Linked DNA regions of Homo sapiens. The protein of the gene in region 3 purifies or fractionates together with the protein of the main gene of each other region. This does not show direct contact. Each region holds a gene or a part of one and is shown on either strand. Other genes may lie near its edges.

The links.
Region 1: the proteins of TSPAN12 (region 3) and NDP purify together in Homo sapiens (co-immunoprecipitation; one study listed by IntAct). This does not show direct contact.
Region 2: the proteins of TSPAN12 (region 3) and ITGA3 purify together in Homo sapiens (co-immunoprecipitation; one study listed by IntAct). This does not show direct contact.
Region 4: the proteins of TSPAN12 (region 3) and ANPEP purify together in Homo sapiens (co-immunoprecipitation; one study listed by IntAct). This does not show direct contact.

What each region holds. Positions count from the first base shown.
Region 1 is NC_000023.11:43,949,798-43,957,857, forward strand, and holds part of NDP (norrin precursor), read right to left. Parts: intron 4,752-8,060; exon of another isoform or gene 4,719-4,751; intron 3,606-4,718; exon of another isoform or gene 3,522-3,605; intron 284-3,521; exon of another isoform or gene 230-283; coding exon 2-229; 3' UTR 1-1. UniProt on the Homo sapiens protein: Activates the canonical Wnt signaling pathway through FZD4 and LRP5 coreceptor.
Region 2 is NC_000017.11:50,073,110-50,076,609, reverse strand, and holds part of ITGA3 (integrin alpha-3 preproprotein), read right to left. Parts: intron 2,695-3,500; coding exon 2,606-2,694; intron 2,467-2,605; coding exon 2,330-2,466; intron 2,163-2,329; coding exon 2,076-2,162; intron 1,152-2,075; coding exon 1,084-1,151; intron 1,012-1,083; coding exon 875-1,011; intron 285-874; coding exon 135-284; intron 27-134; coding exon 1-26.
Region 3 is NC_000007.14:120,830,883-120,838,942, forward strand, and holds part of TSPAN12 (tetraspanin-12), read right to left. Parts: intron 8,031-8,060; coding exon 7,895-8,030; intron 1-7,894. UniProt on the Homo sapiens protein: Regulator of cell surface receptor signal transduction. Plays a central role in retinal vascularization by regulating norrin (NDP) signal transduction.
Region 4 is NC_000015.10:89,785,121-89,792,909, forward strand, and holds part of ANPEP (aminopeptidase N precursor), read right to left. Parts: intron 7,443-7,789; coding exon 7,332-7,442; intron 7,208-7,331; coding exon 7,040-7,207; intron 5,974-7,039; coding exon 5,833-5,973; intron 5,422-5,832; coding exon 5,340-5,421; intron 382-5,339; coding exon 229-381; 3' UTR 1-228. UniProt on the Homo sapiens protein: Broad specificity aminopeptidase which plays a role in the final digestion of peptides generated from hydrolysis of proteins by gastric and pancreatic proteases.

The DNA.
Region 1 (8,060 bases), on a different chromosome or scaffold from region 3:
CTCAGGAATTGCATTCCTCGCAGTGACAGGAGAGGATGTACCGGTAGGTGGCAGTGAGTCGCATGCCCCCTGAGCATCGCAGCCGCAGTGCCTTCAGCTTGGAAGTCTGGGGCCGGCAGCAGTGACAGGAGGAACGGAAGGGTTGCTTGAGGACAGTGCTGAACGACACCAAAGGCTCGGAGCGTGACGCCTGGCTGCAGTGCCCCTCGCACCTGGCCAGGAGCACCATCTGGGGAAAGAAAAGGAGGTGGTTACTCTGTGGGCATGCCACAACCTTAGCCAGGTAAAACAGCATCTTTTGAAAGACCCTCACACTCGTTGCCAATTCCTGCTAGATTAGACCAGTGGCTCAATGCATGTTGCATTTTTTTTAAGTCAACACCCAGGCCTCATTCAGATCGATTGAATTAAAATCCTTGGAGATAGGGACCAGGCTTTCATGGTTTTCAAAGCTTCTTAGGTGATTTCTAAGTGTACTGAGGGTTTAGAACCACTGAATGACGCCCATCACTGTGATGTGCGAGTAAAAACCAAAGAACAAAAGAAATTTCTCCTGACAGGTAGTGGTCTACCACTGGCCCAATGCATTGCAATTCTACCAGTAGCAAAATGCAGAAAGTCAATCCAAATTGAAACCAAGAAGTAAATTAAAATGACTACCAAAAAAAAAAAAAAAAAAAAGAAATTGATTTGTGCAGGAAATAGCTAAAGAACAGGAATATAGTTTCTGAATAAGAAAATAGGATAGCCTGAGTAATGCTTAGGAAGAAATATTCTGGGTGCTGCAATTTGGGACAAGAGAATGAAGTAGAGACAGGGCATGTCTGGGGCCCTGAAATCACACTTCTGGGTTTATATGTTGAAGGAGCCTGGGATTTATGTAATTGCATCCGCATCTTCAGAGTCATTTGCGGCAAATATTAGGATGTACCCATTCTGATAATCTCTATTTCCAAAGATTGGGCTGGAATAACGGAGGCTATGTGTTCTTTATAGTAGCTCTTAATCTGGCTTTAGCAAACAGACACCTTTAAGAATCTGATGAAAACTACCAAAGTTATCCCCAGAAAAATGTACATAAGCACACACACAATTTGCATACAGCTTAACGGAATGGAAAAAAGGATCATTTATGTATCCCATACAAAACTCCTGGTATCCTGGGAGTGGGAGTAATAGGTGGGTAGGGTGGGACAGCTTGACTCATTAAGCTGCATAATCCTAATATCAAGGTGGGGAGGGGAATGGAGAATCTGAGATTATTGGTCCCATGGTTATGTAAGAGGTTTTGCTTGGTGAATTTCATGTTAAGTGATGGAGAAAAAAATCCCCTGGGCCAGGTGTATTGTCTCATGCCTATAATCCCAACACTTTGGAGTCTGAGGCAGGAGGATCACTTGACCCCAGGAGTTTGAGACCAGCCTGGGCAACATAGCATGACCGTGTCTCTAAAAAAAAAAATAAAAAGTTAACCAGGCGTGGTGATGTGCACCTGTAGTCCCAGCTACTTTGGCAGCTGAGGCAGGAGGATCACTTGAACCCAGGAATTAGAGGCTGCAGGAAGCTATGATCAAGCCACTGTACTCCAGCATGAGTGACAGAGCAAGGCCCTGTCTCAAAAAGAAAAGAAAAGAAAAGAAAAATTTGTCCTATAATTCCAGAACCAACAGCAAGATCATAAAAAGTGAAACTGTTCAAATGAAAGATTAAAAGATACATATATATGCATGAAACCTTTTGACGTTTACCTTACAATATTGTAGGAATTCGCAGTTATTATTAAAGACTCACCAGCTATTATCTCTGACATCATCCTGTAGGGCAGAATTAAACACCCAAGGTTTACAAGAAAAAAATAGCCAGTCCATCTTTCCAAAAGGGAGAAAAGATGAATTCTGGTAATTATAGATTATTGGCATAGTTATCTGAGAATATACTGGGGCTAAATCCAACAATCACTTAGCAACCACCAAGGCAATATGAAATACTAGAAAAAAAAAACAGCAGGGCTTAGGGAAGAATAAGTTGGACTAGACCAGTGAATTTATTTTCTCTGAATGATCGCAGAGGCAGAGAGAAAATAGCAGCTGTAAGCTGTTTTGATTTTTTTAAAGCTTTTGATTCTATCCTACCTGCTCTTCATTTTGACAGGCAAAGTAAACTATCAGAAATGATTGTTTGTTTGTTTTGTTTTGTTTTTAGAGACAGAGTCTTGCTATGTTGTCCAGGCTGCAGTGCAGTGGTTATTCACAGGCATGATCATAGCACACTACAGCCTTAAACTCCTGAGCTCAAGGGATCCTCCTGCCTCAGCCTCCTGTGTAGCCAGGACTACAGGCATGTACCACTGTGCCTGGCTCTGAAATGGGTTTTGAGAGACTATGCCATAGGTCAGTAGTACACAGGCTAGTCCCTAATTCCCACCCCCATTTCTCTAATGAGAGAGAGAGTCCAAGATCTTCCTTAGTCTGTTCTCCCCCCATCTCCCTGTATGTGGGAAGAGCTGCTTGATACCTCACCTTGGAGTAGTGTTAAATTTGCTAATCTCTCATCTAGATCATCTATTAGGTTGACTAAGCAGTTATTCACAGAGTCACCTTCCGTGATGGAGTCTTCAGAGGTGCAGTTTCAGTCTGGGTGGACAAAGTAAATCTGTGCCAACGAACTTAACTCAGAAGGGCCAACAATGATATGGGACATAATATCCAAGTGATGTATACACAGGTGAACCAAACGTAGGCCTAACTGACTGGGCCATTAGCACTGTCCATAAAATGACCAAGTCAACAGCGTAGGGCCATTTGTAAATGAGCTCATCTGATTGCAATCTCACTAAAAGTTTTCAGGATGTCCAGCTCCACCCCCAGCCCACTCTGAAGGACAAGAACTCCAGGCACTGAAGGACGTGGGGCCACCTCCAATGGGCTGGGCCCCTCTTCCTTGGGAGCTGGACTGTTTGTGCAAGAAGAATGCACAGACATGTACAATAAATGCCTTCAGTAGTTCAGAATAAAATCCAAAATCTTGAAGAGGAGTCAAGGCCCTTCATGACCCAGGTTTCACATGTATTTCCAGTCTTACTTACAACTATTCTCATCACTCTACTACCCACTCCCTACTCCAGTCAAACTTAACTACTTAGGAGTCCAAGAAAGTGCCCTGAATTCTCCTGCCTCTTGCCTTTGCTTATGTCTTCTGTCTCCCAAATATGTCCTTTCCACCTTGCTCTGCCTAATAAAATCCCACCTATCTATTCTCTGTAGCCAAATTCAAATGCTCTTTCCTGGAAGAAAAGACTATGAAGCAATTATTGAACCATTGATGTTCTCAACACACACACACACACACACACACACACACACTCCTAGAAGGAAATCTATCTCTGTTTTGTGTGTTGAAGTGGTAAAGCAGAAGTTTGAAAGATAAGATCCTTAAGGGATGGAAGGAATAACCATCTGCTCTCCTGGTTTACTCTCAATACTTCACATTTTAGCTTCTGCCATGCCTTACTTGTGTTTCAGCACTTGAACATCTCCTGATCTCTTCCGGATCAGAGCTTCTCAGACTGGAATGTGCGTGTGAATCATCTAGGATCTTGTTAAAAGGCAAGTTCTGATTGAGTAGTTCTGGCCTAGAGCCTGAGATTCTGCATTTCCCATCAGATTCCAGTTGATGTCAGTCCTACTGGGCTGGTGCCCACACTTTGAGTAGCAGGTCTCTGGACCCATTCAAGTTTGAGGGCTGTGCTCTAGATGAATCACTAGATAACCATCATTTCGCTAATAAGAACATTTATTGAGCACTTGCAATGTGAGTTATTTCATCCTTACAACAACCCTACAAGAAAGTACTGTTATGATCTACACTATTAGGACAGATAAGGAAACTCAAGCTTTAGAGAGTTCCAGTAACTTGCCCAAACTCACATAGGTGGTAAAATGCAGAGCTGGAATCAAACCAAGGTCTATCTGAAACCAAAGCCCTGACCTAAACCAGTATAATACCTGCCTCCTGATACCATGTTTTCCTCAAGCATATGCCAACTCACAGACTTCCTTATCTACATTGATTTGCCTCAGAAACCCCTGACCATATCCATAGACATACAAGTCTAACTTTTTCTTGTGGGCTTCTTGGGACATTAGCTTCACCATCCCCAAGCTTATGCAGAGCTGAATCTTCCAAGAGCCTTGACTGACCAGATGTCACCATTAGCATCAGAATAAAGACCCACCTGTCCCACCCTAGAAGAGCATTTTTGCGATTTTACTCCGACAGAGTGGAAAAGTATTTTGCCTTTTTCGCAGCAGTGAACACTATGCACCCTTATTTCCATGGCACCTCTTGAAACACCCTCTATAACCTCAGGAACAAGATTCACCCATGCTTCTTCTCCCATTCTTTCCCCACGGGCAGCCTCATAACTCCGCTCATCTTCAGGGACCCAGGTCAACCTCCAAAAGATCTGTGCTAGGCTGAGGGCACCAAGAAAATTGCAACCAGGGAACAAAGCAGCAGAGAGATGGTGGGGGCTTTGAAAGGGTGGATGGGAACTCAGCTCACTCCAACTAGAAACTGGTCCCTTCACTCCGGTCATGAATCAAACAGATACAAACTGATCTTTGTGCACAGAACACCCCTCCTCCCTCTCTCCCCATTTTCTTGTAAGCATCATGAAGGCAAAAAAATTGTCTCTTTTTTCTTTCTTTCCACTTTAGAGTCTCCAGCACCTTCCACAGCACCTGGACATGGTAGGCACTCAGTATAAATTTGTTCCTTTTAAAAAAATCAAATTATATCTCTCAAGAAGTCTATTGTATTATAAACACAATTTTCCTGACTCCCTCCATTTCTCCTATCACACCATGAGCTTGGTGGGTAGCAGTAGAAGATGGCTTGGGGGTCCTGTTAGGAAGCTGTTAGGACTCAGCCCTTAGCATACCAGGTCCTCTTTTCCTAGGTTTTGTCTCCCAAACCTCTTCCTCCTTATCCTTTGTTGTTGCTCTTCCAGTTCCCCACCTGCTCCTGTGGCCCTTACCGGTTCAGATAGTCATGCCCTGGTTCCATGCCCTGGCCTGGGGCCAGCATCCCCCACTCCTCACCCAACTGAGACTTTCCAGGTCTTCCCTGCCAGTTTGCTTTCCCACCCTCCATTCCTGAAATCCCCTCCCTGGCCCAAGTCCAAAACTCATCCCCCTCCAGCCCCTCCTTCCTCCACTCATCTGGGAAGGAAGGTTAGACAGATATCGGGGCTGTTTCTCTTTTACTTTTATCCTCCCTGTTAGCACCCAGCACAGTGGCTTACATTTACTTTGCTCTTCTGCCCCACCCTGTGCTTAACAAGAACTACAATAAGGTTCATTTTCCTAATCTTTTAAGGCTATAGGAGATCCCAGCAGTTATTGAGATCTCAGTTGTGACTGAAATAGAAAATTGAGTCTAAACACCTGCTTAGTTTATAACTTTATCATCAAGATCATAATATCTTCTATTAAATGGCTATTATGTGCTGGACACCGCTGGATGCTTTACAAATCACCAACACCCATACCCATACCCTCAGGTAGACAGCTCTATTTTGCATGGGAAGAAACTGAGGCACAAAGAAGGAAGTTACTGAACTTCCTCAAAGTCACTCATTCGGCAAGCCATGGAGCTGGAATTGGAAACCAGGTCTCTCTCACTTCAAAGCCTGGCATGCCTCAGTTCTCATAGAGATTCCACCAGGCAGTCTGTTTCCACTATCAACTGGTCTTTTGCCTGTTTGCTCTACAGCCTTTACTCCAAATTTTAGAGAAACTTAGTCTTCCATGAAGATTATAAATGAACCTGCTACTCCCAGGATCTTTTGTACCCAAACCCAGGAGGTGCCACCACTTAAAACTATCAGGCACATCCTAATCTGTGGCCACACTGTCCTCTTTGGTGGGCCACTGTGGCCAGTCTTTTCTGCCTGACTCCCTCTCAGTCCTTTCCGGAATTGCTAGGAGATGGGCAGCAGGGACCTAGGACTGGCCAGCTGCAAGTTCAGGGCTGGGATGAACAGTCTCATTGAAAGCTCCCAGAAAGGCTTTCACTATTATTTATTTTTTCTAGAAACATTGCTGAGTATAAATTATTACTGCCAGCAGATCAGAAGCAGAGCCTGAACTTCTATGTGATGGCTCCTACATTCTACTTGTGTTCCTCCAATATGAAGATCCAAGTAGTGGGAAGATGAATGCTGTAAGGCAGACATTGCCACTCCCTGGCTATATGATATCAAGCAATCTAATTATTTTGGGCTTCAGTTTTCCTTACCAGGATAATGGGAATAATAATGCCTGCCATCACAGGTTTCTTGGCAATGATTATAATATACAATATGAGGTGCCTGACACATATATTAGGTGTTCAAGCAGGTACACTCCCTTCCCTGAGCCTGGGTCACATTCTCCCTTTCTTGCCTTTACAAGGCCAGATAATGGATAAATGTGAGTCAGAAAGCATTAACAATTGGCAGGCAAACAGTAGGCACATGTTTAATAAATAATGACCCTTGAACATGATGTCAAGGGATAATTTTTATAGAGACAAAAAAATCTATCCCAGTCTTTTCTTTGTAAAAAGAAGCTAGGGTAGATTGTTGTTGCCTCTTTTCTAGACATAGGCTAAATGTTTTATCCAAGTCTCTAAAGGCAAACAATTTCATTAAGTGAGACCCATTAGAGAAAAGATCAGCCCGAGAATGTAAGAGTTAAGAATTATAGAACATTTCCAAATGAAAACAGTTTTGCTCCTGGATACATAGAGAAAAATCTAACCTAGAAAAGGTCTGGGTAGTTGAGATTTTGCCAGGCATATTTTATGGCCAGGGAAGAAAGGTTTATAATTGCAAGCACCATTTACATAAAACTATTGCTATATTTGGGATAGTTTGGGATGTTTGAAAACAGATTGTTCCCATGAAATTACAAACATTTCTCCTGCTATCACAATTTTGCGCTGTTATTTGCCATGGCTTTCTGGAAGAAACAAAGGTGAATAACAGTACACTAAAGTCTGTTTCTAAGACTCATGCTCAGAATTCACATGTGAATTTCTTCGGTTTGAGTTCATGATGTCTCTTCTTTGACCTTCGCTAGATTAATGTGATTGTTGCCAAAGTACTCCTCCATCATTTTGTCCAGTCTTTCCAGATTGTTTTCTAGTTTTTATAGATGCTCCTATTTCTTTGTTCCTTTCTATCATCATAGTGACACTTTCTTTGAAATAATTTTAATTCCTTTTTTTAAAAAAGAATCACGATTATGGAGGACAACTCAATACGGAAAGAAATTATCCATGGAATAAAATCACTAAATATTCATGCTGTCTGTTTCTGAAGGGGGAGGGAAGGAGAAACTAATAATTGCTGCAGTCAACCTTACATGGGCCCACAATTTCTGAGCAATCACACTTGTAAAAGCACTTCTCATGTTTTTTCTCAATTTGTTTTAGTTTCCCTTTCCTAAGAAGGAATTGTGGCCCTGCAAAAATTTATGTTCATCTATTTACTCCATTTTTTTTTGGTTCTACAAGCACAAATAAGAGCCAGAAAGTTTTTATTAAGTGGAAAATCTCTATTTTTTCCCACAGTCATAGATCTTATTAATATAATGGTTAAAATGATTTAACTCGAATTCTGATCCTCCTAAACTAAAATGAATCATCATCACTGAGCTATAATCAGAGAAATTAATGGAAATTTTCAAGGCATACAAAAGTCATAATGTTTTTGAATGGAGAGTGGAGGGATTGGCTTATATGGTCTTAATTCTGGTGATTGATACTATAAAAAATTCTTAATTATACTGGTAATTTCAAAAATTACTTGCCATACGAGAATGTTTAAGTGATTTTCATCTCAAAACTAAATGTAAAAATCTCTGAGGTTGGGCTAAACAAATTATTATTTACCAAGTGTGGACAAATTTCATTCATTGTGCCTGTTTAGGGGCAGTGACAGTCGTGAGATCTCGTATGTTCCACCCTACAATGTGCCTCCCTTCTGGGTGGTCCATGTAGCTGGCCACTCTTGG
Region 2 (3,500 bases), on a different chromosome or scaffold from region 3:
GGCCCGCACTCCTTCTGGAACTGGACCTGGGGGGTGGCCGGAGGTGTGAAGGCCGCACCACCCCCCCCAGTGCCCTCTCGCCCCACCGCCCTTCTGGCCCCTGGTCTTCCAGTCCAGGCGCCAGCCCCACTCACCTCAGTGTGGTTCTCCAGAGCCTGTGCCTGGTTGAGGATCGGGTAGGCGTCCAGGGACCGCAGCCCCAGCCGGGGGCGATCGGGCATCCGCAAAGGTAAAGAGTAGTTCATGGAGATGATGATGGGGCGGAGTTTGTCACGGAGGTTGTCCTGGGGAGAGAGGGTGAGCTGAGCCCGGCCCTGCACTGCTCCCTGCCCCAGCTGAATCCTCACACCACCCTGAACCCCAGAGAAGAGCTGGACCCGCCCCCCACCCTGAAAACCTGACAGTTAGGCTGAACTCCCTCCAGTCCGGTCGCCAAATTGCGACTTCCTACTATCCTGACCCTCCAAGAGGAGAGACAGGGCTTCTCCTCCTCAAAAGTCCCTTCACCTCCCCATCCACAGGGTCTCCAGGTTGAGCTCTCCCCTTCCACCCTGATGTCCCAGAGAGGGACTGACCTTGCTCCCTACTCAGGGACCCCTTTTCCCAGAGGTGGGCTGAGCCAAGAGCTCCCACACTCCTCACTTTCCTTGGAGGTAATAAGCCCTTTGGCCCCATCCCCACCCCAAGGGTCTCCATCACTCCTCATGTGTGGGTGCTGTACACTGTACTCCTACACACCAATAGCCTTCCAAACCGATGTCCCCAACCTCTGTCTCTGGGGAGACCCCCGTCCCTCACCCTTGATCTAGGGGGACACTGGCCACCTCCTCCAGGGACCTGGGAGCCCTCATCCTGACCCTTGCTCCTCCCTCACCATCAGGAGCAGCTCCAGCTTCTGGCAGCGCATCTCGGGCATGGAGAAGAAGCCGTGGAAGACAGCGGACTCACTGCCGGCAAAGCGGAGCCGGGGCGGCCGGCGGTCCCTGTCAGCCTCCAGAGTGTAGGCCAGGGCTACAGGTAGACAGGGTGGTCAGCAAGGGGACAGGGGAGCGTACCCCTTTTACGCTGCACCCCAGCACTCACTGATGTTTCGCCTGTAGTTGGGGTTCCCGGCACTCTGGTTGTAAGCAAAGCACAGCTCCACTTGCACACTGTTGGAGGGATGTACAGGAGGGCGGGTCACAGTGGGACACACACGTCCAGGCCCTAGCTCTCGCCTCTGTACTGGGCAAAAGGAAACCGAGGCCCTTCTGGAGAGAGGCAGGGACAAAACTGGGGAGTCCACAAAGCAGGTCTGTGGTGTCCCTGACCCCTTCCCTTCCACTCCCCTTAAAGCCAAAGAGAACAGGGTTAGAGGTCACTAATGGGGAAACTGAGGCCTAGGGCCCAGAAGGACTTGTCTGAAGTCCTCAGTCAGTTGGTGGCCCAGCCCAGTCTTGAACCTAGGTCGGCCAATCCCCAGTCCAGGTCTCCTTGCACCAACCACCCCATTTCCCTGCTCTGTCTGCCTTTGTCTTCTGATCCAAAATCCTCATTCACTTAAAGACCTTGGGGTCATCGCCATCATTACTGTCACTTTCTTAGCAACTAACATTTTTTGAGCACTTAGGGTATACACAGTGCTGTGCTAAGGACTTTCTGTATATTTTCTCATTTAATTATCACAACAACCCTGTGAATCAGTTATTATCAATTCTGTTCTACAAGCAAGAAATCTGAGCCTAAGAGGGATTAATAATTCACCTGAGGAGACTCTCCTCCATATCCATCCACTTAAATGCGTCCCCCTTTCCAGAGCCCATCCCCACCCCTGCACTGGCATAGCTGGGATTTGAACCAGGCCGTCCAGAGCTCCCACCTTGAACCACTATACTCTACTGCCCCCGACTTCATCCATTACCTCTTACAAGGAATTTTGCTTTTTAATGAGGTTGGGTAGAGAGGGCAAATGCTGGCCCCAAGAATCAAATTTCTAAAGGTGGGATGTCAGGAGGCCAGGGGAGGGGTTTGGGAGCTGCAGCCCCTCCTAGCCTCCCTATAAATAAATGAGGAGTAGGTGGGCAGAACAATCTCACCAAGAGGTGGCCGTGCAAAGTGCAGGGTCCAGCACAGCTGGCCTGGGCACCAAGGTCTTGTGGACGATGTTGATGACGGGCCGGGCCCTGCAGAGACAACAGAGCCAGACAGATATCAGTGCCTCCTGCCTGCCCCAGGCCAGAGTTGGGGCCCAGGCTTCCAAGGAGCTAGCGCAAACATGGACACAGATGGGAATCTGTGCAGACAAAGATGAAGAAGAGAAAGACCCTTATTCACTGGCCTCCTGGCTCACCGCAGCAGCACAATGTGGTCTGACAGGCTTCCCACTAGAAGGTCTGGGTAGAAGTTCTCATCCACATCCATCTGCCCACTGAGGGAATAGCCGAAGGTGGCCAACCCAGGCAGTCCCAGCTTCTCTCCATGGATTACCTGGGGGCAGGGGAAAGTGGTGGGGGCAGGCTCTGGGGAGCAGGGCCCAGGGGGCTACAGGGAAGGGTTGGGTGAAGGAAAGCAAGGAAGGCCCATCTCGGCTGGTGGGGGCAGCAGACCCATCCCCGTCTCTCTGTACCTGCTGGGGCTGTCTAAGGAGCCCCTTAGAGCTACTGTGATAGATGTACACTTTGCCCAAGCCTTCAAACGGAGCTCCCACAGCAATATCTGCAGAAGAAAAGGCAAGACAGGGTCACCCAGGTACTCTGGGCCCCACGTCTCCCTAACTCTTTGCTCCAGGCCATACAGCCCAGCACAGAACTGATCTTGGCCTGATTGATGGGCAGGGCTCAGAGCATCAGGGACAGAGCAGAGCTCTGCAGCTCAGGATGAACACTGGGACCATCTGGAGCCCAGCTTCCTCCTATCACGGGTGGGAAAGTAGGTTCAGGAGATGACAAGTGACTCTACCAGACAGTTGTCAAGCATTCAGTGTGTGTGCGTGTGTGCGTGTGTGTGTGTGTGTGTGTGTGTGTGTGTGTGTGTGTGTTTATAGACAGTGTCTCGCTCTGTGACCCAGGCTGGAGTGCAGTGGCACAGTCATAGCTCACTGCAGCCTCAACCTCCTGGACTGAAGGGATCCTCCCACCTCAGCCTCCCAAGTAGCTGGGACAGGCACACACCAACACACCCAGCTATTCATTTAATTTTCACGAGAGTGCTGTGGGGTGGGTACTATTATCCCCCCACTTTATAGATGAGGAGACACTCCAAAAACCCAGAGTTGTACAACTAATGAGTGTAGAAAAGAGAAAATTTGAGCCCAGGGCTGTCTCACAGCAGGGGCTGGGATTTTAACCACAACACTACAGTGAACTTCACTGAAAGTGTCAAGGCTTTTTACATTCTAATCATTATCTCCACAAATAACCCCCAAGTATTTGGTTATCTTCTTAAACTGAACTCTTTCCAGTTTGCAGCTTTGGATCAGATAAGGCCTAGGGAATCAGCAAGCCAAGCTTGTTAGTAAGGCC
Region 3 (8,060 bases):
ACCATGTATCTGTTAAGGGACTAATATCCAAAACATAAAATGGACTCAAACAACTCAATAGCAAGAAAGTAAATAACCCAATTAAAAAATAAGCAAAGGACCTGAACAGACATTTCTTAAAAGATGACATGCAAATACCCAACAGAAGACAAAGAGATGAAAAAAAATGCTCAACATCACTGTTAGGAAAACACAAATTCAAACCACAATGAAATATCAACTTGTAGCTCTTAGAATGTTTACTATCAAAAAGACAAAAGATAACAAATGTTGGCAAGGCTGTGGGGGAAAAAAATCCTGGTACACTGTTTGAGTAAATATAAATTAGTACAGCCATTATGGAGAGCAGTATGGAGGTTTTCAAAAAATTATAAATTGAATTACCATATGATCCAGCAATCTCACTTCTGAGTGTACATCCAAACGAAATGAATAGGAATGCCACAGAGATATCTGTATTCTCATGTTCATTCCAGCATTATTCACAATAGTCAAGACATAAAAGCAACCTAAGTGTCCATCAATAGATGAATGGATAAAGAAAATGTAGTCCATATATACAACAGAATACTATACAGCCCTAAAAAAACAAGGAAATTCTGTTACTTGTGGTAACATGGATGAACCTGGAGGACATTATGTTAAGTGAAATAAGCCAGCACAGAAAGACAGATACCACATGATCTCAGTTATATGTGGAACCTAAAAAGTGTTGATCTCAGAGGAATAGAGAGTAGAATGGTGGTTACTAGAGGCTGGTAGGGTGAAGAGGAGGAGGGTGAAAGGATGATTAATGGGTACAAAGTTTCAGTTAGATAGTAGAAATAACTTTTAGTGACCTATTGCATAGCATGGTGACTATAGAGTGATGTATAAGTGTATATTTAATAATGATAAGTTGTATATTTCAAAATTGCTAAAATAGTAAACTTTAAATGTTCTCACCACAAAAAATAAGTGGATGCAGTGGATATGTTAATTAGCTTCATCTAAGAATCCCACCGTGTATACATACATCATTGAAACATCAAATTGTACCCCATAAATATATACAATTATTATTGATAATTACAAATAAAAAATTTTAAATTATAACTTCTAAAGAATTCTAGCTAACAAGTCAAATAAAGTACATGTATTGAGTAGATATGTTTCTATTATATAAAAAAGTACAAATGCTGAATAATTTTTCATTTCCTGATGTCAAGCAATACAAACATTACTATCATGTAATGCTTTATCCATAATTCTACCTCAGCAAGGTTTACTGATTTCAGCCACCTTCCTCCAGTCCCTAAGTCTTACTTAGTTCATACCCTTATCCATGGCTTCTGGGGATGATAATGTAATCACTAACAGGGCTTTCTATTGTCTCCCGCTTAAATGTGAATTATCATTTCATCACAAGCTGGAAACACGCATTGGTTCTTTACAGCCCAAAGAATAACATCTAACTTTTTGATAAAGACCTTCACAATTGGACTTAACTTCATTTTCTTCTCACTGTGCACCAACACCACAGCCACTCTGACTTTCTAAGTTTTGCCTAAGCTTACCCTGTCCCTTCACTCCTCAGTGTTTATACACACTCTTCATGTTGCTGTAAATCTTCTTCCTTCCTCGTCTCCACCGGCAAACCCTTATGTATTTTTCAACATCCAGTTCAAATAAAGACTCCCCTGTGAAACATTCTGGAAATCTCCATTTGCTCCTGATTCTGGGTTCCCACAGCAATTATTTATAAATTTAATGTTATATTTTGCTTTGTAATTTTCTTTCTATTCACCCCTTTCATCTTTGTTCTCTCAAGTAACTATCATGGATGGGTACTCAATACACAATTAAGGAGGGCAAAAGGAAAGGAAAGAGGAATGAGAGGTGAGGAAGGTAAAAAGGAAAGGAGAAACTGCTTGATTCTTTGACAAGATAAGCAAAAATGATAACTACAGTAGAAATTTTAAAGTTCATTTTATAATAAGCATACCAAAAGACCATATTTTTAGAAATTAAATGACTACCGAATGCCTTGGAGTGATAAATGAAGCATAGTTAAAGTCTTCTAGAAACAATGCCAGTAATTAGTTAAATGCCTTATAACAGTACTGTGGTGTAGTGAAACCTGCATGGTCTTTCAGCACAGGCTGCATTTGAATGCTAACAACTACCAGCTGTGTATCTTTGGGGATTCTACTTTTCCTCATTTGTAAAATTAGTCTAATAGAGTTGCTGTGAGTATATTTTGAGAAAACAAAGGTAAAATATTGGGCAGATACTGAACATACGGTAAATAATATGATGAATCTTCATTTAGAAATAAAGTTTAGGCTATCAACCAAAAATATAAACAAAATAATAAAGACATACAACTTAATAGGTTAATTTTAACTTAAGGACTTATGACTAGCTATATAATCATAAAATTCATGACTATGTAAGAGAAGGCCTTAAACAGAGACTTTTTAGAAAATCAATTACTACTTAAATATATTCTGATTTGCATTATGATTTTAAACAACAAACAAACAAACAAACAAAAAAAAAACAAGGGGAAATTTCTCCAAGGCCATTAAAATTTCATTTGATTTCCACTAAGGAAAACATTCAGATCTGGTTCAATCACTCTATATTTAAAGAAAGTTTTAAAAGTGCAAGCACACAATCAATAGTTATATTCAAAGTCTCTGGAAAAATAAAATTGGAAAAAAAAGCACTTCTCCTTTTAAAATGATTCATTTGTATTAAATACGTAAGGTACATCCAACTTAATTTCTGACAAGCACTTGACTGCTTGTGGTTTGCTGGCAGTTGAGCATATATTTGCATCACATCCTGACAAATGATGATCTCCTGATGGTGACATTCAGCTGTTGTCAACATCATAAACATGTCTGTTCAATCTGTTTACATTCCCCCTGAGCTGGCACTGCTTTCCTAATGCCTATGTTAATAGCAAGGTAGAACTGCAATAACAAATGAATTTCATTTCGTCTACAGCTAAAGCCTTGGGAAGTAACCATCTAAGGCTTAAAACCAATTTCAATTTAGCTTCACTTTCTCTGTTAATGGGAGAAGGAATTTCTACTACTGAAATTACCGTGAAAGGCATGGCATATTCCAGTTTCTTTTCTTAGTCATTTTTGGCTTGTTTTCCCATTATAATTAGAATTTAATTATTCTTAAACCCCTCATATAAATACATAAAAATTTCTGTTCTATGACAGTTTCACACTTGCTAAGAACAAATCTAATGAGTACGTTTGCCAGATAAAGCAAATAAAAATACCTATGTCCATTTAAATTTAAATTTCAATGAATAATGTTTTAGTATATGTATATTCTAAACATTGCATGGGATATACTCATACTAAAACATTATTTATTGTTTATCTGAAATCAAATTTAATTGGGCATCTTCTATTTTATTTGGGAACCTTAAATTAGGGTGCTTTAACAACTTACATCTATAAATCTATCATTCAAAAGAAGGATGAAATTCATGACCAAGGTTTCTCAGAAATGTTTTCCAATAGGTGGCCTCTTAGCTTGTAGAGGTTTTCTGTTGCTTTTTGATGAGGGCTGCAGGGAGGCTGGTTATAAAGACCTGTTTTGAGGAAGGCTCATTTACTTTTTCTTGATCAGTCTGTTGAATAATGGCATTTTTACTTTTGCTTGAACAGCAAAACAGCCCAGTTGCCAGCTCTTTTTTATATATATATAATCATTCAAGAGATATGGCAGCTCTCTGAGATACCAATTGTCTTTTGAAAAATAGCTTTCTCACACTAATCTGTTTTACAGCTCTTAAAAGTAAAACAAGACTTTGAATACAGGGAAATGGACAAGTTGGATGAATGTATTCTGCTTGTTTAAATATTTACATCCAAAATAAAAGTAAGAAACTTCCTTAAAAAATTGTTTTTAATTAGGATAAAAGGTTAAAGGGCACACAAAAAATACTGTAAGTTACTTTGCAAATATTTGCCCAAGACCTTACATCATGTCGCATTCTGCACTATTTTACCGCCCACCCCTCCATGAGCCATTCCCCTTGTAATCTAACCTTTTCTAACAGTCAAATTCCTCTGTTAAAATCTCACTCTCATCACTGCCTTCCAGGCAACATCTTTAATCTGATGTGCTGGTCATTCCTACTTTCACTATTCTAATTCACTGTCTGTTATTCAATGATTTAATAAACACTTATTAAAGCAATGAGCAAGGTGAATGGTTCATATTACTGAAGTTGTTTGTAGTCTGGTAGTCTGGGCTGATTATTAAAAAGAAAAGGAAGTTTATAATAAGAGAAATACACTAGGCTTCAAAAGTTGGGAAAAGTCTATTAGAGACATCAGTAAAGGCCCAGTGAGAATGGGCTTTGCAATCAGGAACGCCGAGGTCTGAATCCAAGCTCCCAGCCTTATTGCCGAATGACTTGTGGCATATTACTGACCTCTCTGAACCTCATTTAATAATTACCTATCTCAGATAATTGTCGTCAGGTTTAAAATGAAAATGTTTTATACATTACAGGACACATTTGTAAACACTTAGGAAAAAAATCAGCTATTATAGAGTAAAATGGCAAAATTGTTACAAATATTGGAACTAGACTGCCATGGCCTGAATATTAGATCCTCTCTTTACTAGCTGTGTAGACTTAGGCAACTCACTTAATCTCTCTATGCCTCATTTCCTCATCTATATTAAGTGAATAATAAGGGTAATTCAAAGTTTTAGTCCAATTTTATACTCAGCAGAGAGGATAAAATTGATTAACTCATGTACAAGAACTCTTCATTTAAAAAAAATTCAGGTAAAACTCTACAGTGTCTGGCACTGTAAGTACTCAAGAAATGTTAACTACTTCAATTATCATCAGTGTCATAATTATCATTTGAAGAGGTAGCATTTCAGATAAGTCTTCATGGGCTAGTAATATTTAAATGAAAGTACTGAGAAGAAATTTCTGGCTAAGAAGACAGCAAGAATAAATGTAGAGAAGAACGGAGCAAGAAAGTTTGTTCAGGGGTCAGAAAATACAGAACCAGAGAATAATGAAGTAGATAAAAAAGCAAAAAATGGCAGATCAAGTCTCCATTGTAGAAGGGCTTGGTGTACATTTGAGGTGTTGGTACATACTTCATTACCCAATAGGGAGTCTCTGCACCTGTCTGAGCAGGAAGTTAGGAAAGCCTGAACTTGGGCATCCCAGAGGAGGACAGAAAAGAGAGGACAACTTCCCATGACTGTAGAATCTGAACTGAGAGGAATAGGCAGCTATTTAGAGGAGTGGGATGTGGGGAGGAAGCCAGAGAGGAGAGCCTGAGAAACAGACCAGATGCAAATTGGTTGTGAGTGATAGATACATGGTAGTTGAGACCACAGATCATTCTTTAGCAAGAAGGAAGCTGTGTTAGGTCTAGACAGAGTAAGGACTAGAAGCCTGCCATGAGAGGAGAGGCACCCCAAAGGGAATGGAGAACGAACAGCCAAAGGCAATCAACAGGAAGGAGGAACCAAGATGTAGATGTCACCTAGGGACACATGGAACAGCAATGCATAAAAAGATGCTTTGTAAAAAAGAGTACATCCAAAAAGCAAAGTAGAGATGGAAAAAAGCAAAATCAATCTATGCTCATCATCTTCCCAGAGGGTGGCACTGAACCCTTCGGGCTGAGCTCAGAGTTCTTCCTCTCTGGCCTCAATAGCACCCAGTGCAAACCCTATTAGAGGTCTTATCTCATAAAGACAGGTCTGATAGCAAAAATTGGTGGTATACATGATCAGTAAGTATTTGGAGAATGAATGAATGAGTAAATTAGTGGCCTTTAGAACCTCAGTCATCCCTGCCACTTTTGCATTATAATGCTCTTGCCAGTATTACAAACTAGACTCTCATTCACAAGTTTAAGATTTGCTCTACTTCAAGTAGCAGGCCACATTACTTTGTTGTTTGTCAATTTGCATTACTAGCATCTAAGCAGCCTAAGGGAATGCATAAAGAGTTTTCAAAATGTGTTTCCAAAGCCTTTGTGGTTCCATGAAATACCTGACCCTACTTGCCCTGCCTCCCTCCAGCATCCCACTGCATAGGGACTGTGCAGAGTAAAAGTTGGGAGGAGGGAGGAAATGGCAGTCAGACCTTAATTGGTTATGCAAGAGAGACATCATTGTAAGACTGCGTTTTAAAAAAGAATTCTGAGACTCTTTATTTAAAACTTGAAATATGTTATACTCTACTCAAATTATAGAAGGTTCATGTAAAGTAAGTCCTTTTGTTTATGTTTAAATTATTGCCCAAATATCTAAAATTGCAAAATAAGATCCCAAATTTCCACCATTCTCCCTTTCACTATATACCTATATGAAGAGAAATAAAGCAGTAGGCATGTTTCCCCATCTCTGAGTGTGGTTTATTTTATTCATTTATTTATTTTTTTTTTTTTTGAGATGGAGTCTTGCTCTGTCGCCCAGGCTGGAGTGCAGTGACGTGATCTCGGCTCACTGCAACCTCCGCCTCCCGGGTTCACACCATTCTCCTGCCTCAGCCTCCCGAGTAGCTGGGACTACAGGTGCCCGCCAACATGCCCGGCTAATTTTTTTGTATTTTTAGTAGAGACAGGGTTTCACCGTGTTAGCCAGGATGGTCTTGATTTCTTGACCTCGTGATCTGCCTGCCTCGGCCTCCCAAAGTGCTGGGATTACAGGCGTGAGCCACCTTGCCCGGCCTGAGTGTGCTTTATTTTCTATAGCATTTTGTGTTTTTCAATATTCGACCTGAACAGTTACCCTCCAAGAAGCTAAGTAATACATTAACACAGGTTATACTGTGAAATTCAAAGCTTTAGTTCAACTTCACACTAAGATTCTGTTTTAATTGACTTGGCATGGGAGCCAGTCAAGCACGAGTGTGTGGGAGCTGGCTCCTTGAGCCAATTTGTACTCATCTGTCCCCAGTTCCACATTCAGTGATTTCATGTTGGTAACTTAAAATTGACCATGCTGGGAGAATTTACCCCACGGAAATCCCCAAATGCTACAAATCTGAGCTTTTTTTCTGCCCAGTGATCCAGCTTACCAGCACACCACTCAAATTGTTTAAGTTCTTTATATGAAATTAATACACAGCCAGGGCTGAGACCTACTATAAAAAAAGCGTATACTCAATGAATTAATTTTTCAGCCTTATATGTCTGCAACTATATGTTAGTAATCTCATTACCTGGTGCCACTAGTATATATTTTGCACATTAAGTGCTCTTCTAAAAATATCTATATAAACAGTATTTTAATCAACTCAATTTTTTAATGTTAAAAATGTTTGCCTACTTTTGAATTAAAAGACTAGTCACAGAATTTGAATGGTGAAACTAATTTAAAAAGTACCTAGTGCAACTCTCAGAGTTAAAAAAACAACAACCAAGATTATAGAAACTGAGACTCGCTTATGTTCTCTAAACTATATAAAGGCAGTGACAGGACCATTACATACGTCTGCTACCTCACAACCTGAATTTCCATAGGAGCTTACAGGGTGGATTTGTTTAAAAATAGAAGAGAAAGAAACAGTTCCTTTATGGCTTCTCAGTTCCAGTCCCAAGGGGCCTTTTTGAGTGCTAATAACTACAAGGACACTAGAAAGAACTCATACTTTCAAATGAAAATGTCAACACGTAGCTGGAGTGAAATAATTAAATTGCTTATATATATTTCCATACCTCATCCGGTACAGCAAATATGTGTATTCAAATAATCTCTTGTGAAACGAAAGCGTCCCTTCTTACAGGATGTTGTTACTGCTATCACTGCTCCCTAATCTTGTGAACTGATTAAAAAATAATATATTACTGGTTAATCTTTTTAACTATAATAAAGAGAAAATATAACATCATACCCATGCAAGAAGCAACAGATTTCTTTTCACCGTTCCACAATATCCTAACATCCCCACAATGATAAGGAAACAGCAAACAGCAATCATGACCGGATGAACCACAGGAAAGTAAGTCAAAATGACTGCTTCCTCTACCCTGAAAGAAGAAAAATAATGTATTAGAAAG
Region 4 (7,789 bases), on a different chromosome or scaffold from region 3:
CCTAGGGCGGGGTTGGCATGAGGGGCAGGGGCTGGGAGGTGCTCAGGCAGCCTGGGTCATCAGGAACTAGACTGGCTCACAGGCAGAGAGAACGTGGGCTGGAGACTTTGTCCTTGAGGGGAGGACACTGGTGCCTCGGGCTCCAGGAATGGAGGCCCTGCACCAGCCGCTGGGATGGACACATGTGGGCACCTTGCATGGGGGCCGGGTGACTTCAAGGGCTGGGGACTATTTGCTGTTTTCTGTGAACCACTGGAGCACCACCTCCTTGTTCTCCTTCACCCACTTGATGTTGGCTTTCGTCTTCTCCAGGGCTTGCTCCAGGGCCCGGGTGCCTGAGCCGAAGCCTGTTTCCTCGTTGTCCTTCTTGAACTGCTCCAGCTGCCAGAAAAACAAAAGATTCTCAGTCCGGCTGGGTCCCTAACAGCCTTGAGGAGGAGCTCTCTCAGGCCTCTGGCTTTCCACTCCCACTTTAGAGTCCCCATGGATGGGACCACACCCTGTTCCAGGGATAGGCAGGACGTCCACCTTGCTCCCGGGCAAAGTCCTTGTGAACACAGAGGTTGCAAAATGACAATCCCAGGCAAAACCTGGCTCAGGGAGATTCTGGCCTTCAGGTGTAATATTTTATTATAATATCAATCCAATCAAGAGAGTAGAGAGGGGCTAATGAAGCAACCAGCCAAATCTAAAATGTGGAAATTTCTATACCACAAATGATCCAGTTGCTTCAGTAAATAAATGGGTTTAAAAAAAAAATACTCCTACAAATTAGAAGAGTTATCAGTCCTGGAGGTTCTAGCCAGGCAATCAGCCAAGAGAATGAAATGAAAGGAATCCAGAAAGGAAGAAGTAAAACTATGTGTATGACATGTTTGCATACATAAAAATTTTAAGGAATCCATTAAAAAATCTATTAGAACTAATGATTTCTGCAAGGTTGCAGGATACAAGAGCAATACACAAATATCAATTGTATTCCCATACATTAGCAATGAAAAACCTGAAAATGAAATTAAGAAAACAATTCCATTTACGATAGCATCAACAAGAATAAAATATTTAGGAATAAATTTGACAAAATAAGTGCAAGACTGGAATGCCAAAAACTACAAAACATTTTTGAAAGAAATTAAAGAACACCTAAGTAAAAAGAAAAAAGACCCAAATAAATCTGTGTCCATGGACTGGAAGATTTAGCATCATTAAGATGGCAATAGTCCCCATATTGCTCTAGAGATTCAATCCCATCAAAATTTTAACTACTTTTTTTTTTTTTTTTTTGCGGAAATTGATCAGTGATCCTAAAATGCATAAGAAATTGCAAGGGACCCAGAATAGCCAAAACAATATTGAAAAAGAACACAGTTGGCCAGCCTGGGCAAGATGGTGAAACCCTGTCTCTGCAGAAAAATACAGAACATTAGCCGGGCATGGTGGCATGTGCCTATAGTCCCAACTACTCAGGAGGTTGAGGTGGGGGGATCACCTGAGCCTGGGAAGTTGAGGCTGCAGTGAGCTGTGATCTCACCACTGTACTCCAGCCTGGGTGACAGAGTGAGACCCTTTCTCAAAAAAAAAAAAAGCAAATTGGAGGACTCACACTTCCCAATTTTAAAACTCACTACAAAACTATAGTAATCAGGACAGTATGGTACAGGCATAAGGATGCAAATATAGATGAATGAAATAGAATTGAGAATCCAAAAACAAACCCTTATATTTACCGTCAATTGATTTTCAACTAGGTTGCCAAGACCATTCAGTGGGAGAAGAACAGTCTTTTCAACAAATGGGACTTGGACAACCGGATATCCACATGCAAAAGGAATGAAGTTGGACCCCAACCTCATATCATATACAAATATTAAGTCAAAATAGATCAAATGCCTACGTTTGAGTGAAAACATAATAAAACTCTTTTTTTTTTTTTTTTTTTTTTTGAGGCAGAGTCTTGCTCTGTCATCCAGGCTAGAGTGCAGTGGTGCGATCTCAGCTCACTGCAAACTCCGCCTCCCGGGTTCAAGCAATTCTCCTGCCTCAGCCTCCCGAGTAGCTGGGATTACAGGCGCCCGCCACTGCATCCAGCTAATTTTCGTATTTTTTAGTAGGGACGGGGTTTCACCATCTTGGCCAGGCTGGTCTTGAACTCCTGACCTCATGATCCACCTGCCTTGGCCTCCCAAAGTGCTGGGATTACAGGCGTGAGCCGCCATGCCTGGCCAATAAAACTCTTAGAAAAAACATCGTCAGGTCTTTTGTGGGTTTGAAAAATTTTTTTGAAATAAAAAAATAGGTATAAATCTTCATGACCTTGGGTTAGACAATACTTTCTTAGATATGATACATAAAGTATAAGCAACCAAAGGGAAAAAAAACAGATAAATAGGATTTCATCAAGATTTAAAATTTTGGGTATCAAAAGACCTATTAAGTGAGTGAAAAGACAGTCCATAGAATGGGAGAAATACTTGCAAACCCTATCTCTGATTAAGGGTCTAATATTCAGAATATATAAAGAACTCTTACAATAAAAAGACAACCCAATTTTAAAATAGCAAAAGACTGGGCACAGTGGCACATGCCTGTAATCCAAGCTACTCAGAAGGCTGAAGTGGGAGGGTTGCTTGAGCCCAGGAATTTAAGGACAACCTAGGCAACATAGTAAGACCCTCTCTCGAAAAGAAAAATAGTCAGTTTTACCCATTTCTCCAAAGATACACAAATGTGTATAAGGCCAATAAGCACATGAAATATTCAACATCATGTCATTCATTACTCATTAGGGAGATATAACTGAAAACCATAATGATACCACTTCCTACCCACTAGATGACTATACTAAAAAAAGAGGGAAAGAGAGATAAGTGTAGACATGGAGCAATTAGAACCCTCATGTGATACACTGCTAATAGGAATGGACAATGGTACAGTTGCTTTGGAAAACATTTTGTCAGTTTCTCAAAAAGTTAAACACAGAGTAACCAAATGACCCAGCAATTCCGCTCCTAGGTGTATACCCAAGATAAATTAAAACATGTTTGTACAAAATTTGCACGTGAAGGTCCATGATATTCATCACAGCCAGAAGACTGAAACAACCCAAATGCCCATCAATGATGAGCTGAAAACAAAATGTGGTACATCCATGTAATGGACCATTATTCAGCCATAAAAAAGAATGATCCCTGCTACCGTATGCATGAATCTTGAAAACATTACACTAAGTGAAAGAAGGCAGACAGACACAAAAAGGCTGTGTGTATATGATTCCATTTTATGAAACATCCAGAATAGGTAATAAATCCATAGAGACAGAAAGTATATTAGTGGTTGCCAGGGGCTGAGGGGACCAGGTAGGAATAAGGAGTGACTGCTAATGAGTACAAGGTTTTTTTTTGGCGTAATAAAAATGTTCTGGAATTAGACAGTAGTGATGGTTGTACCACATGGTTTTTTTCTGTTTGTTTGTTTGGTTTGGTTTGGTTTTGGTTTTTTGAGACAGGGTCTTGCTCTGTCACCCAGGCTGGAATGCGGTGGCACCACCTCCGCTCACTGCAACCTCTGCCTTCCTGGTTCAAGCGATCCTCTCACCTCAGTCTCCTGAGTAGCTAGGACTACAGGTATGCACCACCATGCCCAGCTTATTTATTTATTTATTTATTTATTTATTTATTTATTTAGAGATGAGATCTTATGATATTGCCCAGGCTGGTCTCAAACTCCTGGGTTCAAGGGATCCTCCTGCGTTGGCCTCCCAAAGTGCTGGGATTACAGGCATGAAGCACCCCACCCACCCTACCTTGTTAGTTTACTGAAAACCACTTAAAATGGTGAGTTTGATGGTCCATGAATTATATATCAATTTTTTTTTTTTGAGACAGAGTCTCACTCTGTCGCCCAAGCTGGAGTGCAGTGGCACAATCTTGGTTCACTGCAACCTCCGCCTCCTGGATTCAGGCAATTATTCTGCCACAGCCTCCCGAGTAGCTGGGACTACAGGCACCCCCCACCACACCCAGCTAATTTTTGTATTTTTAGTAGAGACAGGGTTTCACCATGTTGGCCACGCTGGTCTGGAACTCCCGACCTCAGGTGATCCACCCACCTTAGCCTCCTAAAGTGCTGGGACTACAGGTGTGAGCCACCACGCCCAGCAAATTATATCTCAATTTTTAAAAAAGACAAACTAACTTAATCCAAGTTGACTTTGTCAAGCTTCTAATTCAAGCATATATATCAATTGTAAAAAGACCTTTTATAAACAACTTAGAAAATTTGAATATGCCTTGGGTATATGATAGTAAGAAGATAATCATTTTCCTGGGTTTGCTAAGGACAGTGTGATTATGTTTTAAGAATCCCTTTATTGCTGGGCGCAGTGGCTCACACCTGTAATCTCAGCACTTTGGGAGACCGAGGTGGGTGGATCACTTGAGGTCAGGAGTTCGAGACCAGCCTGGCCAACATGGTGAAACCTCGTCTCTACTAAAAATACAAAAATTAGCCGGGTGTGGGGGCGCATGCCTGTAATCCCAGCTACTCGGGAAGCTGAGGCAGGAGAATTGATTGAACCCCAGAGGCAGAGGTTGCAGTGAGCCGAGATCATACCACTGCACCACTCCAGCCTGCATGACAGAGCGAGACTCAGTCTCAAAAAAAAAAAAAAGCTGGACGCCGTGGCTCACGCCTGTAATCCCAGCACTTTGGGAGGCCGAGGCAGGCAGATCATGAGGTCAGGAGATCGAGACCATGGTGAAACCCCATCTCTACTAAAAATACAAAAAAATTAGCCAGGCGCGGTGGCGGGCACTTGTAGTCCCAGCTACTCAGGAAGCTGAGGCAGGAGAATGACGTGAACCCGGGAGGCGGAGCTTGCAGTGAGCCCAGATCGCACCACTGCACTCCAGCCTGGGTGACAGAGCAAGACTCCATCTCAAAAAAAAAATAAAAAATAAAAAAAATAAAAGAATGCGTTTATTTTTCATATGACTAAATTATTTAGAGGTAAAATTACATGATCAGTGATTTGCTTAAAAATTGCCCGCCCGGAAAAAGTACTGGCAAAATGTTGATAATTGTTGAACCTGGGTAACGGGTACATGGAGGTTCATTATACCACTCTTCCCTTTTGTGCCTATACAAAAATCCCAAGATGAATTTTTTAAATTGAATTATCAACATTTCCAAAGTCTGGCTACTCGGCTTCCTCTGTAAATGAGGAAGGCCTGGCGGCGTGGAGCCTGTGCTCCCTCAGGGCCACGTGGGAGAAGAATGGAGTGCCCCTTTGGCCTGGGAAGGAAGTAGGCAGAGCCCAGGTCTGGGGAATGACTTCTTACCTGCTGCAGCTCATACTCGGTGGAGAATCGTCGTGTCACTGCCTGGATGAGGTTGGAGAAGGAGAACGAGCCACCACCATAACTGCAGGGAGGGAGAGAGGTGAACTGTGAGGGAGGCCGGGAACTAAGGAGGCTCATCCTCACACCTACTGGGTAGGGAGCCATGATTATAGAGGAGATGAAATGACACGCCCTGGGAGACCCCACTAGGATGTGGGGGAGTCACAGCTTGAACACAGGTCTGACTGCCGAGTTCCTCACTCCCCTCTCTTCTGGAGAATACGCCCACACGCCACGTTTTCCTTCCAAATGGGAAAAGGGACGGCCCATACCCCAGCTTGTCTTTCCATTCCTGCCCCACCCTAGCCCCCAGGCTTGGCTGATTTTTGTCCACTTCTGGTTAGTGCCCCCGGCGTGTCTTACCCGCACAGGCCACCCCCCGGGGCCCCAGCCTCGGCGCTCGCTGTCCCTGACACCCATTCCACAGACTCACTCGTTAAAAAGCTTCTTCCAGTTGCTCTGGACAAAGTCCCAGACCAGACCTTGCCCAATGACGTTGTTGGTAATGCTGATGATGGTAGAGGTGGCGTCCTGCTTCCGGATTAAGTCCGGGTTCAGGGTGTAGCTCAGGTACCTAAGAGGGCCAGATGCTGTCTCAGCTACTGCTAATTCAGGTGACTCAGGAGAGAACTTGGACTGTCCCACGCACATCACCTATGCCTGCATCCTCTCAACATCCCCTCGGCCTGCCAGGGGCTGAGGGACCCCTTGGTCCTTCTTCCCTCTATAGATGGAAAACTGAGTCACCTAAGCAGGGTCACAGGGTCACTGGCTAAGCTAGTGTCATGCCTGACATAGAAATATTTGACAATGAATCAATGAAGGAAGGAGTCCTAGCGCCCCAAGCCCTGGCACCAGGTGGGTGGTCACTCCCGTCTTTGACACTGAGGGTGGCCCTTCTTTTCTTTTCTTTTCTTTTCTCTTTTCTTTTCTTTCGAGACGGAGTCTCACTCTGTCGCCCAGGCTGGAGTGCAGTGGAGCGATTTGGGCTTACTGTAACCTTCGCCTGCCAGGTTCAAGTGATTCTCCTGCCTCAGCCTCCCGGGTAGCTGGGATTACAGGCATGTGCCACCATGCCTATTTTTTTTTTTTTTTTGTATTTTTAGTATTTTTAGTAGAGACGGGGTTTCTCCATGTTGGCCAGGCTGGTCTCGAACTCCTGACCTCAGGTGATCCATCCACCTCAGTCTTCCAAAGTGCTGGGATTACAGGTATGAGCCACCACACCCTGCCCAAGGGTGGCTCTTCTTTACTGCATCCAGGTAATGGCATATGAGGCACATGGTGGGAGGTGGGGACCCTCATCCAAGGGCTTGAGGGGGTGCCCAGCTGGATGTTTGAAAAGACCCAGGTCCAGCTACACCAGAGCCTTTGACAGAAGGGAAGACGAGTTGTTGTCAGGTAAAGGCTAAGAGGCCACAGCAGCTAGGAACAGAGGACATGGACCCAGACCTGAGTCCATATCTTGTCTCTATCACTTATTAAAGCTTCCAGTCTGCACCGGTTACTTTGGAAATACTGCCTCCACCTCAACAGGTCTGTGGGGGTCACGTGAAGGATCTGGCGAGGAGTGTGGAGGCCTGCCTGGTTCTCCAGGTGGGGAGAGGGCTCTCGCAGTCCCACCCTGCGCCAAGACTCACCTGTTCAGGATCCACAACTCTTTGCTGCAGGCCAGGGCTGCCCGGAGCTTGTCAGCCTCATTGACCAGTGTGGCATTTCGGAACTGCTCCCAGGCGAAGTCCCACTCCTCCTCCCCGCCCTGGGCGATAGCGTTGCAGTAGACGGTGGACCGCAGGTTGGGGTGGATCCTGGTGTGGGGTAGGGAGGTCAGGTGTGGAACAGCAGCGGGGAGGGTGGGACAGGGTTCTGCTGAGGACGGGGCTGTTGGGGGCAGATGAAGACTGGCAGAGGAGGCGCAGGGGAGACACTCACGGGTTATTATTGGGGTTCTCCATCCACTGCTTGAAAAGGCCAGAGACCATCTCCTCACACTCTGGAACTCCGTTGGAGCAGGCGGTGCTGATGGCATTAACCTCGCTGTACCTGCCCCAGGGGTGACACGCGGTTAGCACACCTGGCGAACTCCAGCCAAGATTCACCTCTTGACACACAACCCCAGGCCGGCACCCTGCCTAAGGCTCTGTGGCCTAACTGGCCCTCTGACCCCCGCTGTATGTGCTTTGTGCCTTGGGCCTGAGGTTCCTTGGTCCCCAAAGCAGCCCTGTGACCCAGAAGGGCAGGAACAGGCTCCAGCCCCAGTTTCAACACCTAGAAACTGTATAACCTCAAGCCAGTGGGGTGAGCTAGAGTTTCAGTTTGGGTCTTTGTATAAAGAGGTCCGATGGGCCCTCAGGCCACATGGAGCCTCAGGGCAGGACCTCCCTGCTCCT